2 separate regions of the Homo sapiens genome follow, and region 2 is linked to region 1. The links come from fine-mapping of genetic effects on plasma protein levels. Region 1 holds a variant in brackets. A gene starts in the other region. All regions are shown on their forward strands.

Region 1 (5,000 bases):
TCCTAATTCCTTCTTGAGTTCTGTTACCTCATTTCTGAGTCTTTTAAAATCTGATTCCTGGTGCTTTTTCCTGTCCTGTATTTTTTTTTTAATTCTTTTAACTCCTTTTGAAACAGTAAGTTACAATGGTTTTATTTGTTTTGTGGACATTCTTTCTGGCATCTTCTCACTGTCTGTGGGGATGGTATTCTACTCCTTGGCTTTTTTCTTCTTATGACCTTATGTAAGATTGGGCTTCTCCCTCCTCTTGCTCACTTTTAAATGAAATTAGACTTTTGAGGCTGGATGCGGTAACTCACGCTGGTAATCCCAGCACTCTGGAGGCTGAGGCGGGCGGATCACTTGAGTCCAGGAGTTTGAGACTAGCCTGGCCAACATGGCGAGACCCTGTCTCTACTAAAAAATACAAAAAATACACAATAGAAAAAAAATTAGCCAGGCATGGTGGCACGTGCCTGTTATCCCAGTTACTTGGAAGGCTGAGTCACGGGACTCCCTTGAACCCCAGAGGCGGAGGTTTAAAAAAAAAAAGATTTATGGAACATGGTGAAGATGCTTAGCTGCTCAAGGAAATTCATTTTTTAGACAAGGTCTCACTCTGTTTCCCAGGCTGGAGAACAGTGGTAATGGTCGTAGCTCACTGCAATCTCAAACTCCTGGGTTCAAGCAATCCTCCCGTCTCGTCTCAGCCTCCTGAGTAGCTGGAACTACAGGCATGCACTACTATGCCTGGCTAATTTATTTATTTATTTAGTTAGTTATTTATATTTTTTTGTAGAGATGGGGTCTCTACAAAAGACGGTGTCTGGTCTTGAACTCCTGGGCTTAAGTGACCCTCCTGTCTCAGCCTCCCAAAGTGCTGGGATGACAAGCATGAGCCACCATGCCTGTCCTGCTCAAGGAGATTCTATATTATTACACAAGCAATATAAATGTATATTTACATGAAAATAGTTTTCTGGCAGATGTTTATGGTACTCAAGGAACTTTTAGAAGATGGCAGGTTCAGGATAGCGATCCTAACCTCACTGATGGTTTTTTCTTTTTTTTATTTTTTGTGTACTGAATGCAAACACGTCGGGTCCTGGATCTGAGATGTCCTCTGTGTCTCTCTTGTGAACTCCTCTGTCTTTTCTCTTTCGTTCCTGTCCTGCTCAGTTTTGATCTCACTCCCAGCAGTTTCTCCTCAGCGTGTGGCCGCTCAACAGGGGAGGACCTGGCAGGTCAGTGCCGTGAGTTTAGGGACTGGGCTGCCCTGCCCCAACCCCTGCAGACTTCACTGCCCATGGCCCCTGTGCCGTCGCCTACTCTTGGACTGGACAGAACTCTTCCCAGTTCCAGCTGCTTTTTGTGGTTTGGCCTCCTCTGCTTTCCCAGGGAGGTTCTTTCTGGCCATTTTTGGTGTTGTTGGCCCAGGCCCCTTGGAGGCCACATTGCTTACTTGCATCCTCTGCTCTGGAGGCTGCTGGGTAGGTCTTGTAGCTGTTGGTGGTTTCCTCACCCATTTGTATTTTGGGGACTGTGGGGACGTGGTTTGGCTGTAAATGCCATCCGTAGGCTTTAGGTCTTGCTAGCTGGTTGCACTTTCTGTTCTGAAGGGGACTTGGGGACGTTCAAAGCTGTGCCACCCTCGAGAATTTCCCCAGAACCCCATTACATGCATACGTTTTAAGAGACACATTTTGGCCGGGTGCAGTGGCTCACTCCTATAATCCCAGCACTTTGGGAGGCCGAGGTGGGCAGATCACCTGAGGTTAGGAGTTCGAGACCAGCCTGGCTAACATGGTGAAACTCCGTCTCTACTAAAAATACAAAAACTAACCAGGCGTGGTGGTGTGCAATGTAATCCCAACTACTTGGGAGGCTGAGGCACGAGAATCGCTTGAACCTGGAAGGCAGAGGTTGCAGTGAGCCGAGATCACACCACTGCACTCCAGCCTGGGTGACAGAGCGAGACTCCTTCTTTAAAAAAAAAAAAAGACTTATTTTGACCAGAAAATCTACTATTCTGTCAATAACCTGTTTACCTTATTTTAAAAGTGTTTTCATTATAAATCAATATAATGCATTTCAGAAGAATTGCAAACACTGATGGATAAAGTTATATTTATGATTCTGCCATAATAGAATTCATGTTGACATTTTGGTTTATTCTTGCCTTTCTCATTTTTTTATTAAGTATATTGCAGTTGTCTCAAACTTCCTCTTTCTTCACCGTTTTTAAGAGATAAAGTACTCAGTGTCGGTTTTCTGTCAGTGACTGAGCCGACTCCATACCCACGTGCCCCGCATTCCCCAGCCCCCATTCACTTCCGGCGCATTCAGTCCTGCTCTCACCCTTCCTTCTTGGAGGCCACAGGCCCCAAGTGCCGCCCTTGCCACCCCCTGATTCCTCACAGATGGACTTTTCCTCCAGGCCCTCTGGCTGCTCTTGACCCTGTTGAGTGGAGATTAATCCTGCACCAAAGCCACACACACAGCGTTGCCAAAGCAGTAACACAAGGCTGGGCACGGTGCTCACACCTGTAATCCCAGCACATTGGGAGGCTGAGACAGGTGGATCACCTGAGGTCGGGAGTTCGAGACCAGCCTGACCTACATGGAGAAACCCCGTCTCTACTAAAAATACAAAATTAGACGGGCATGGTTGCATATGCCTGTAATCCCAGCTACTAGGGAGGCTGAGGCAGGGGAATCGCTTGAGCCTGGGAGGCAGAGGTTGCGGTGAGCCGAGATCACACCATTGCACTCCAGCCTGGGCAACAAGAGTGAAACTCCGTCTCAAAAAAAAACAAAACAAAACAACACCACCAAAAAAAACCAAAAAACAAAGCAGTAACCCAGATTCGTTGAATATGGATAGTTATTTTCTTCTTGGATAG[T/A]AATTTTTTATCTTTCCTTGTTTATGTGGAAGAGAGAGAGTGGTGCTACAATCCCCTCATTCATGAATATAATCCCCACAAAAGAAACACCCCCCACTCGGATCCGCACCAACAAATTCACCGAGGGATTTCAGAACATCGTGGATGCTTATGGAGTCGGAAGCTACAGAGAAGTCAATCCAGGTTGGAAGTCTGATTTGTAAATACCCGTATTTCCAATGGCATTGTTGCATTCTTGCTCTAAGAATGGAATAGATATTTGGAAAGAGAGGCTGACCATTACTTTTTTGCTATCTTATTTAAAAGTATAAGGTTTTAAATGTAACCACACAATCCTATCTTGTGAATTCTGGAGAAAGTCAAGATTGTTATGTATCATTGTGTTTGAATGAACTCAGGTTTTCCATATTTGCTGTGAATCAGAAATCTCTTTCCCTTTTTTCTGCAGCTCTCTTTACCATCATCACCTTCCCGTTTTTATTTGCTGTGATGTTTGGAGACTTCGGACATGGCTTTGTGATGTTTTTATTTGCCCTCTTGTTGGTGTTAAATGAAAATCATCCCAGACTAAATCAGTCACAAGAGGTAAAAATATAAACACTCCAGCTCATATATCTGGTTAGGTGGCATTAGCAGTGACCGAAAGAGAGACACCTCTTAGATGTTTGCTGTAGGCTGCGGCTGTGCTGGGCAGGTGTGTGGCCTGTCAGCTGCGGCTGACAGGGATGTCTGCGGGGCGAGGCTGTTTTCTGAGAAGTGAGTGGTGAGGGTCGTGCCCACACCGACAGCTGTCACATGGACACCCTCCAGTAACCATATTCTGCCCCCGCCTTGCCCTTCACAGATCATGAGGATGTTTTTTAATGGCCGGTACATCCTCCTGCTGATGGGGCTGTTCTCAGTGTACACTGGCCTCATCTACAACGACTGCTTTTCAAAGTCAGTCAACCTGTTCGGCTCTGGGTGGAACGTGTCGGCCATGTACAGCTCCAGCCACCCACCCGCAGAGCATAAGAAGATGGTGCTTTGGAAGTAAGTGTCCCATAGCTGGTGATGCTCTGGGTGGAAAGCATGTTTCCTAGACCTTCCTCCTCCCAGGTCAGCCTCCTCACTCTGCTTTTTGTTACAGTGACAGCGTCGTTAGACACAACAGCATTTTGCAGCTGGATCCAAGCATTCCTGGAGTGTTCCGAGGCCCTTATCCCCTTGGCATTGATCCTGTGAGTGCACCACGCTCTGTCGTTGTCTCTGGATGCTCTGTGGTGCCACCTAGCTTCGGGCGCCACGAGTTTCTCTAGACTGTTGAGCAGGGTTCACGCTGCCCTGAGCGGGAGGTGCTCATTAGCCCCTGTGCATCCCAGTCCCGGACACTGGGAGGGGAGGCCAGGAGCTGGGGGGCCCTCCGTTTGGGAAGGTGAGGTCAGAGGAAGTCCTCAGAGAGCCAGGGCTGTGTTCTGTCATGTGTCCTACCTATTTTCCTCTGGCTGAAAATGGCACTTCAGTAGCCCTGAAATGTGTGCCATTTCCTACATTTCTTCCTCGTATATGTGAACTTTTAAAAACCCTTGATCTCGAAAGAAATGGTATGGAGTGTTAGAGCTGAAAGGAAGCGTGAGGTTATTATGGTGCTTATTGGGGTAGTTGTTTGGAATGGGAAAAGTGTTAATAGAAAGAAAATGGGGAAGTACTCACGCCTGTAATTCCAGCACTTTGGGAGGCCGAGGCGGGCAGATCATGAGGTCAGGAGATTGAGACCATCCTGGCTAACACGGTGAAACCCCATCTCTACTAAAAATACAAAAAATTAGCTGGGTGTGGTGGCTGGCGCCTGTAGTCCCAGCTACTCAGGAGGCTGAGGCAGGAGAATGGCGTGAACCCAGGAGGCGAAGCTTGCAGTGAGCCGAGATGGTGCCATTGCACTCCAGCCTGGGCAACGGAGCGAGAGACTCTGTCTCAAAAAAAAAAAAAAAAGAAAATGGAGAAGTAGCCCCAGGGTGCCAGGACCCCCAACCCCTTCGAGGGCTCAGCAGGCGGTGGCTGAGGCAGTGGACTGCAGGGTTGGGTGGGGTTTTCCTGAGCTGTCAGGAGTCTTTCTGGAGAATCAAAAGAATGACTGAG
Region 2 (5,516 bases), not on the chromosome of region 1:
GGATGAAGCAGCACCCCCCTGGCCGGGTCTCGCCTGATGAAAGCGGGTCTCAGCATCTTCTTGGCGGCAACCTCAACGCAGGTCTCACAGCCCAAGCCCATCAAAGGCAAAGGTTTCCTGAAACGCTCCCTTCACCCTATGCCTACTGACACACTACGCAATCCTATATGCCAGGATGTGGCTTTACATGCAGAAAACAGGGACACGATGTTTTCATGAAGCAAACCAAAGAAAGGACAAGACCGTCCTGGCTGCTGAGCGCAGGTCGCAGGAGGCTGAGAGCAGTGGCTGCAGAGCCGGGCAGGAAGTGCTTCTCTGAAAAAGCAGCCCTCACCTCAATTATCTTCCAGGGGGCGATCCAAGACCCCGTCTCCGTCTGATACCTACCTAGAGCGGCGAGTCAGGTGGGGTAAGAAGCCGACTGGAGTGACTATTTGCACGAACAATTCTCTCCCCCTACGTTTGAACTGACTGTGGCTCCTCCTGCCTCCTGACCACCCTGGGCCCTGGCACGCTCGGCAGAAAGAGCCACAGCACAAAGACCACCCGGGATGCACTACCGCCACTGAGAACCTCAAAAAGACCCGGACGGGTCTGACGCCTGCACACTTGGCTCCAGGATAGAACACCCTCACAGCACCGCCACCCTCCAAGCTTCCGTTATCTGGAAGGAAAATCAGGACGAATGGGCTCTGCAGGCCTGCCTGCCATAGTACCAGGCTCTCTGGAATGGGGGAAGACACACAAAATCCCCCAAAACACCCTCACCCCCGAAGAACTTCACGTTCTGTTCAGCAAAAAAGACTTGCCCACACAACTAGAACTTCAGGACTTAAAGGGACCAGAAAGATCATCTAGTCCAAGGCTCAGTCCAAAGTGGAGGTGAGCAGCTCGCCCTACCATGGTGCCCAGTGAACCTCAGGGAGGTTTAGGAGACATGACCCAACCCAAGACTGAAACTGGTCAGGCGAGCACCCAGCACCGGGGGACAGTGCAGGGGCAGCCCGAGGGTAGCTGGACCAGTGCAGGGGCAGCCTGAGGGCAGGTGTATTGCTGCAGGAGGCCTGGGCTGACAAAGACAGAGGACCAGCTGGAGGTGGCTGGAGGTAAGGTGGAGCGCACCAGGGCGGCCCTGCAGAGCAGGTGGAAGACTTGGGCCAGCACCCAAAAGGGAGCCGCTGGGGTTCCTGGGTCCGAGTGCACTTCCTCAGCGCCACCTCCAATCGGTCAGGGAGTCTATTTCGGGCTCCCCATTCCTCATGGGGAGGGGGGACTCCACCCACTCAACAGATGCCCAGTGCAGTGGGCACGGGGAGGCAGCACTGCATCCCGGCTGCTCCTGGTCACACCTGTTCCCTGCTGCTGGGAGGCCATCAACACATCCAAACCCAGCCGTGTCCCCAGCCCCTCCAGAATCCCTTCCTCCAAGAAGCCGCCCTGCCGCTCCAGCCCAGAGCGTTCTCCCACCTCCCACCTCCGCAGGCTGAACATTACGCCTGGGGCTTGACTGCTGGTCCCAGGAGCAGTTCAGGAAGGGCCTGTGGAGCTGATGCCCAGGCGTCAATCCCCATCCCCACGCAGTCTTATAACCGTCTGTCGTCTGTCTGTCCCCCACCTGTTTCTCCTCTCCCTTTTCGTTCCAAAAGTTCCTTCTTATTCTGCAAATCACTTACTTTCCCTCTCAAAGACTCAGGAATGCTTAAAACTGGACTATTGAGACAGAGATCTAATCTGACTCCTGCATTTGAGATGAGATAATGAGGCCCAGATGGTCGGCATAGTTCGAAAACACCCATTTCAGGTGTTTTCAGGAACACCTAACAAATGAAGCAACCGTATCTTAATGAAGAGAGCAGCTGGCCCAGGGTCACGCACCAATTAGGAAGCTGTTGTCCCGGGGGGCCCCACCGGCCGAGCCACCTTGGGGGTGCCCTTTCCCCTCGGGGCCTCCGTACCCTCATCTCTCAAATGAAGGAGAGGTCAGGTGAGCGCCCTGTTAAGACTGACTTTCAGCATTCCCAAGGTCGCGTTTTATGTGCTCTAAACCGATCCCATCTCCTCACCTCCTCATTTCTCGCTCAAATGAACAAGCACGGGCTTGCTACTGGGATTCCTTCTGTCCCTGGACACGTCTTTCTACCCAACATTTTGTTTTTCTTGTTTCCCCACATAGGGAGATAAGGTTGAGGGAACAGGCAAAGGCTCGGGAGGCAGGAGACCTGTGATCTAGCCTGGTTCTGTCCCTACGCTCGGGTCAGCAGGCCGCCCAGGCTGGGGAGGGCGACACTGACCCTCGGGGTGCCGGCCGCCACCTGCTTCACACGGCGTCGTCGCCGGCACGGGTACCTTTCCTGCTGCAGAAGGGGTCGGGGCGCCCCACCTGACACTTGGGGGAGGCTGTGCCAAGGACAGGGCGCGTAGGGCACAGGTGCCCCGGCTGCGCCCCCCTCCGCCTCCGACCCCTGGGCCCCGCTCCAACGACCCCAACCACGGCCCCCGCCCCCAGGCCCCGCTCCACCGACCGCGGGCCGCGCTCACTCGCTGGGCCTTCTCCCACAGCTGGTTCAACTTCTCCATGCGGAACTCCTCTCCGGACTCGCGTTTCGGGGACGGCTTGGGCTGGTTCTTCTCCCGCGAGTACTTGCCGCCGTGGCTCGCAGCGGGCCAGGGCCCGAGGAAGAGCAGCAGCAGTAGCAGCGCCGGGAGCCCGCGCAGAAACGACCTGACCCTCCGCGGCGCCATCTTCCTCTGCGACTGGCGCTGCGCGGAGAAAACCTAGCCTGCCGATGCCCCGCCCACTACCCCGCCCCCACCCACCGCGCGGTCTCCTGGGAATTGTAGTTCCTCCGTGAGCGGCCGGCAGCGGCGAGGCCGCCGGCGGACTCCAGCGCCTAGGAAGCCCTGCGCAGGCGCAAGCGTTTCCCAGGCAACCACGCCGCGGCCCGAGGCTGCAGACTCTGGCAGGGGATACAACTGGAGAATGAGGGTGGCCGGGTGGGAGCAGGGATCAGGCCTCACCCAGAGCCCGGAGCCTGGAGCCCGCACGACTCGAGGCCTCTTTCCCTCTCTGCCCCACAGAAAGAGCGGAAAGCCCAAGAACCGGGCCGCGTTTGGCTGAGCCTGATAATGCTCCGGCTTCACGCGCACTGACGCCGACTCTTGCATGTCCAGTGCCGTTGCGGGGTTGGCACTGCGGCCCGGGCCTGGCGCTGAGGAGCCTGGCCCAGCCCGCTTCTGCCCTCCGCGGAGCGCCTGGCCGTGGGTAAGCCCAGGCCAGGTTGTCCCGGGGACGCAGGGCCGCGCAGACGTCCCCCTACGTCCCGGGGCCCCTGCCCCAACCCGCGTCCCAAGCGCCTGCTCTCGCGCCTGCTGCAAGGCAGGACTTCGCGCGCTTTTCCCCAACCCATGACACTCTAGGAAATTCACAGAGCCAAAGTTAGCATAGACCGCTCGTTGGGGGCTTGGCCAGTGAGTTGGGAAGTGCCCTGGAGGTAGCGCGGGAAACAAGGGGAAGGAGGGAGACAGACAGCAGCTGGGCCCCTTTGGGCTCAGAGAAGGGACAAGGGGAGCTCATCTGGCAAGAATGATCTGAAAAGGCCTCCAAGGGTGGGCGGGATTTTGCGGGGGGAGGGAGGAATTTCCAACTGGAGGGACAATGACAAAGGGGGTGAATAGAGCCTGGGCATCTTGAGAGGAATTAATGTTAATTCATTTCCTTTTTTTGCGTGGGGGGATAGGGTCTCTGTCATCGAGGCTGGAGTGCAGTGGCATGATCATGGCTCACTGCAGCCTCGACCTCCTGGGCTAAAGCGATCCTCCTGCCTCAGCCTCCCAAGTAGCTGGAACTATAGGTGCGTGTCACCACGCCCAGCTAATTTTTGAAATTTTTTGGTAGAAATTAGGTCTCCCTATGTTGTCCAGGCTGTTCTCCAACTCCTGGGCTCAAGCAACCCTCCCGTCTTGGTCCCCCAAAGTGCTGGGATTACAGGCGTGGGCCACTGGGCCTACCCTAATTTACATTTAAATTGTATCTTGTGTTGTTCCAGAGAAGATTTCAGGTCCCTGGAATCAAGGTGATCTGCTTCTGTCCTGTGCTGCTTTTCTAGTATTTTCAGAGCCATCGTTTCATTTCTTTTTTTCCAGCTGTTGAGTTGTTTCAGGCAAGAGGGTAAATTCAGTCTGTTACTGCATCTTAGCTGGAAGCACAAGTTCCCAATATGGGATGTATGGGGGAGAGGAGGTAAAGGAATCCCCCAGGAGGGTGGTGGAGGGAGAATGACCTCATGCGAAGTGACTCCAGAGACAGATCAAATGCTGTCATTGCCATCATTGCATGTTTTTAAGCCTCAGGACAGAATGGCCAGGTGAGCCTGGCCTAGATTCTCACCTGTGCCTGCCTTCCCCTTGTGTTCCCTCGTTCCTGCTCTTCTCTCCATCTCCTGGTGCCTAGAATCAGAGGTCACCTGTTTTACCCCACATACATGTTTTGCCCTGACCCCACTCCTGAGAGCTACAGGTAGGTCTTGGTGGGCTTAGAAGGGGATAGTCCAAATTGGCCTATCCCCCCCAAGCATGTCCCTGTTGGTCATCTGGAATGTGGTCCTAACTGCAAATGTTCCAGCTCTGTGAATCCTGCCCCCAGTGTCTCTAGAAAGGCCCGTTATAAACCCACAGGAATTGGAAGCTGGACTGGGAGCAGAGTCTTCTGGGATCCTGCATCTGACAGTGGTGTGGGGTTCTAAGAGCCCTTTTCCTATACAGCCCGGTTTCCCAGATAACTAAGCAATATTTTATTCGTGGCTGCATACACAGGCAATGAAACTAAAGAAAGTCAGGGGATGGCTAAAGGATGGAGGATACCTGGGCTGGGGGAGGAGGGAGAATGCGACGGGTGAACACAGACAGGCTTCCAAAGTGGTGTCCAGGTTGTAGTTCTTCACTAGGTGGTGGGCACACAGGCATGCATTTTTCCTTATCTTTAAATTGTACATATTTCATACACTTCTCCGTATGTATTATACATTTCAAACTAGTACATCTTCTAAAAAATCACAGTGGTTAATGCAATCAGTACAGGTGCCAGGCACATACCAGAGACTCCAGGTGACGGCATGCTCTCCTCTTGGGCTCCTCCTCTAGGGCTGAAAGTTTATTTCTCACCCCTGCCGCCAGCACCCGCCATGCCAGCCCGTGTCTCTAAGTGCTGAGGGGAAGGTGTATGAACAGAGACAGATACGGCCGTGGAGGAACCCGGAGGGAGGGCCCTCCACTTGGTGAGGACGGATTGTGAGGCTGGTCAGTGCTGAAGCTGAGTATCTTGCTTACGAGAGAAAAGGGGAACTGTGCTTATAGGACCATCTCTCAGAGCAAAACAAATTGAGTCTCTTGGGAAGCCTGGCATTGAGGATTGTCCAGCTTTCAGAAGTGAGAGTGTTCAGCCTGACTTCAGGGGCACAAGGTTCTTGCTGCCTGGGCCTGTTCTGTAGTGTGGGGCTGTCCCTGACTGGCCGGCTTTC

Direction of the effects. Positions count from the first base shown, and alleles are read on the strand shown. Strength reflects both the effect of a copy and how common the allele is.
For the plasma level of the protein whose gene starts at base 2,752 in region 2, allele A in region 1 goes with a higher level than allele T (weak association).

Evidence for each region. PIP is the posterior inclusion probability: the model's chance that the variant is causal. The UK Biobank Pharma Proteomics Project read protein levels with antibody pairs (Olink). The fine-mapping took linkage between variants from a reference panel, not from the people measured, so its PIPs are less certain.
Region 2: LRPAP1 starts here. The variant in region 1 is fine-mapped to the plasma level of the LRPAP1 protein (UK Biobank, PIP 0.95).

What each region holds. Positions count from the first base shown.
Region 1 is chr12:123,740,871-123,745,870 of GRCh38, forward strand. ATP6V0A2 (ATPase H+ transporting V0 subunit a2) reads left to right here. Exons shown (of 20, transcript NM_012463.4): 10 at 2,915-3,065; 11 at 3,331-3,467; 12 at 3,727-3,914; 13 at 4,012-4,102. Among named protein-coding and RNA genes, the nearest start is that of DNAH10, 19 kb to the right of the region's middle. The variant T/A (reference allele first, on the strand shown) is at 2,883.
Region 2 is chr4:3,529,671-3,535,186 of GRCh38, forward strand. It overlaps LRPAP1 (LDL receptor related protein associated protein 1), which reads right to left and starts at 2,752. Exons shown (of 8, transcript NM_002337.4): 1 at 2,539-2,752. The coding sequence starts at 2,742. RefSeq lists silencers at 2,242-2,491, 2,932-2,991 and an enhancer at 2,532-2,741.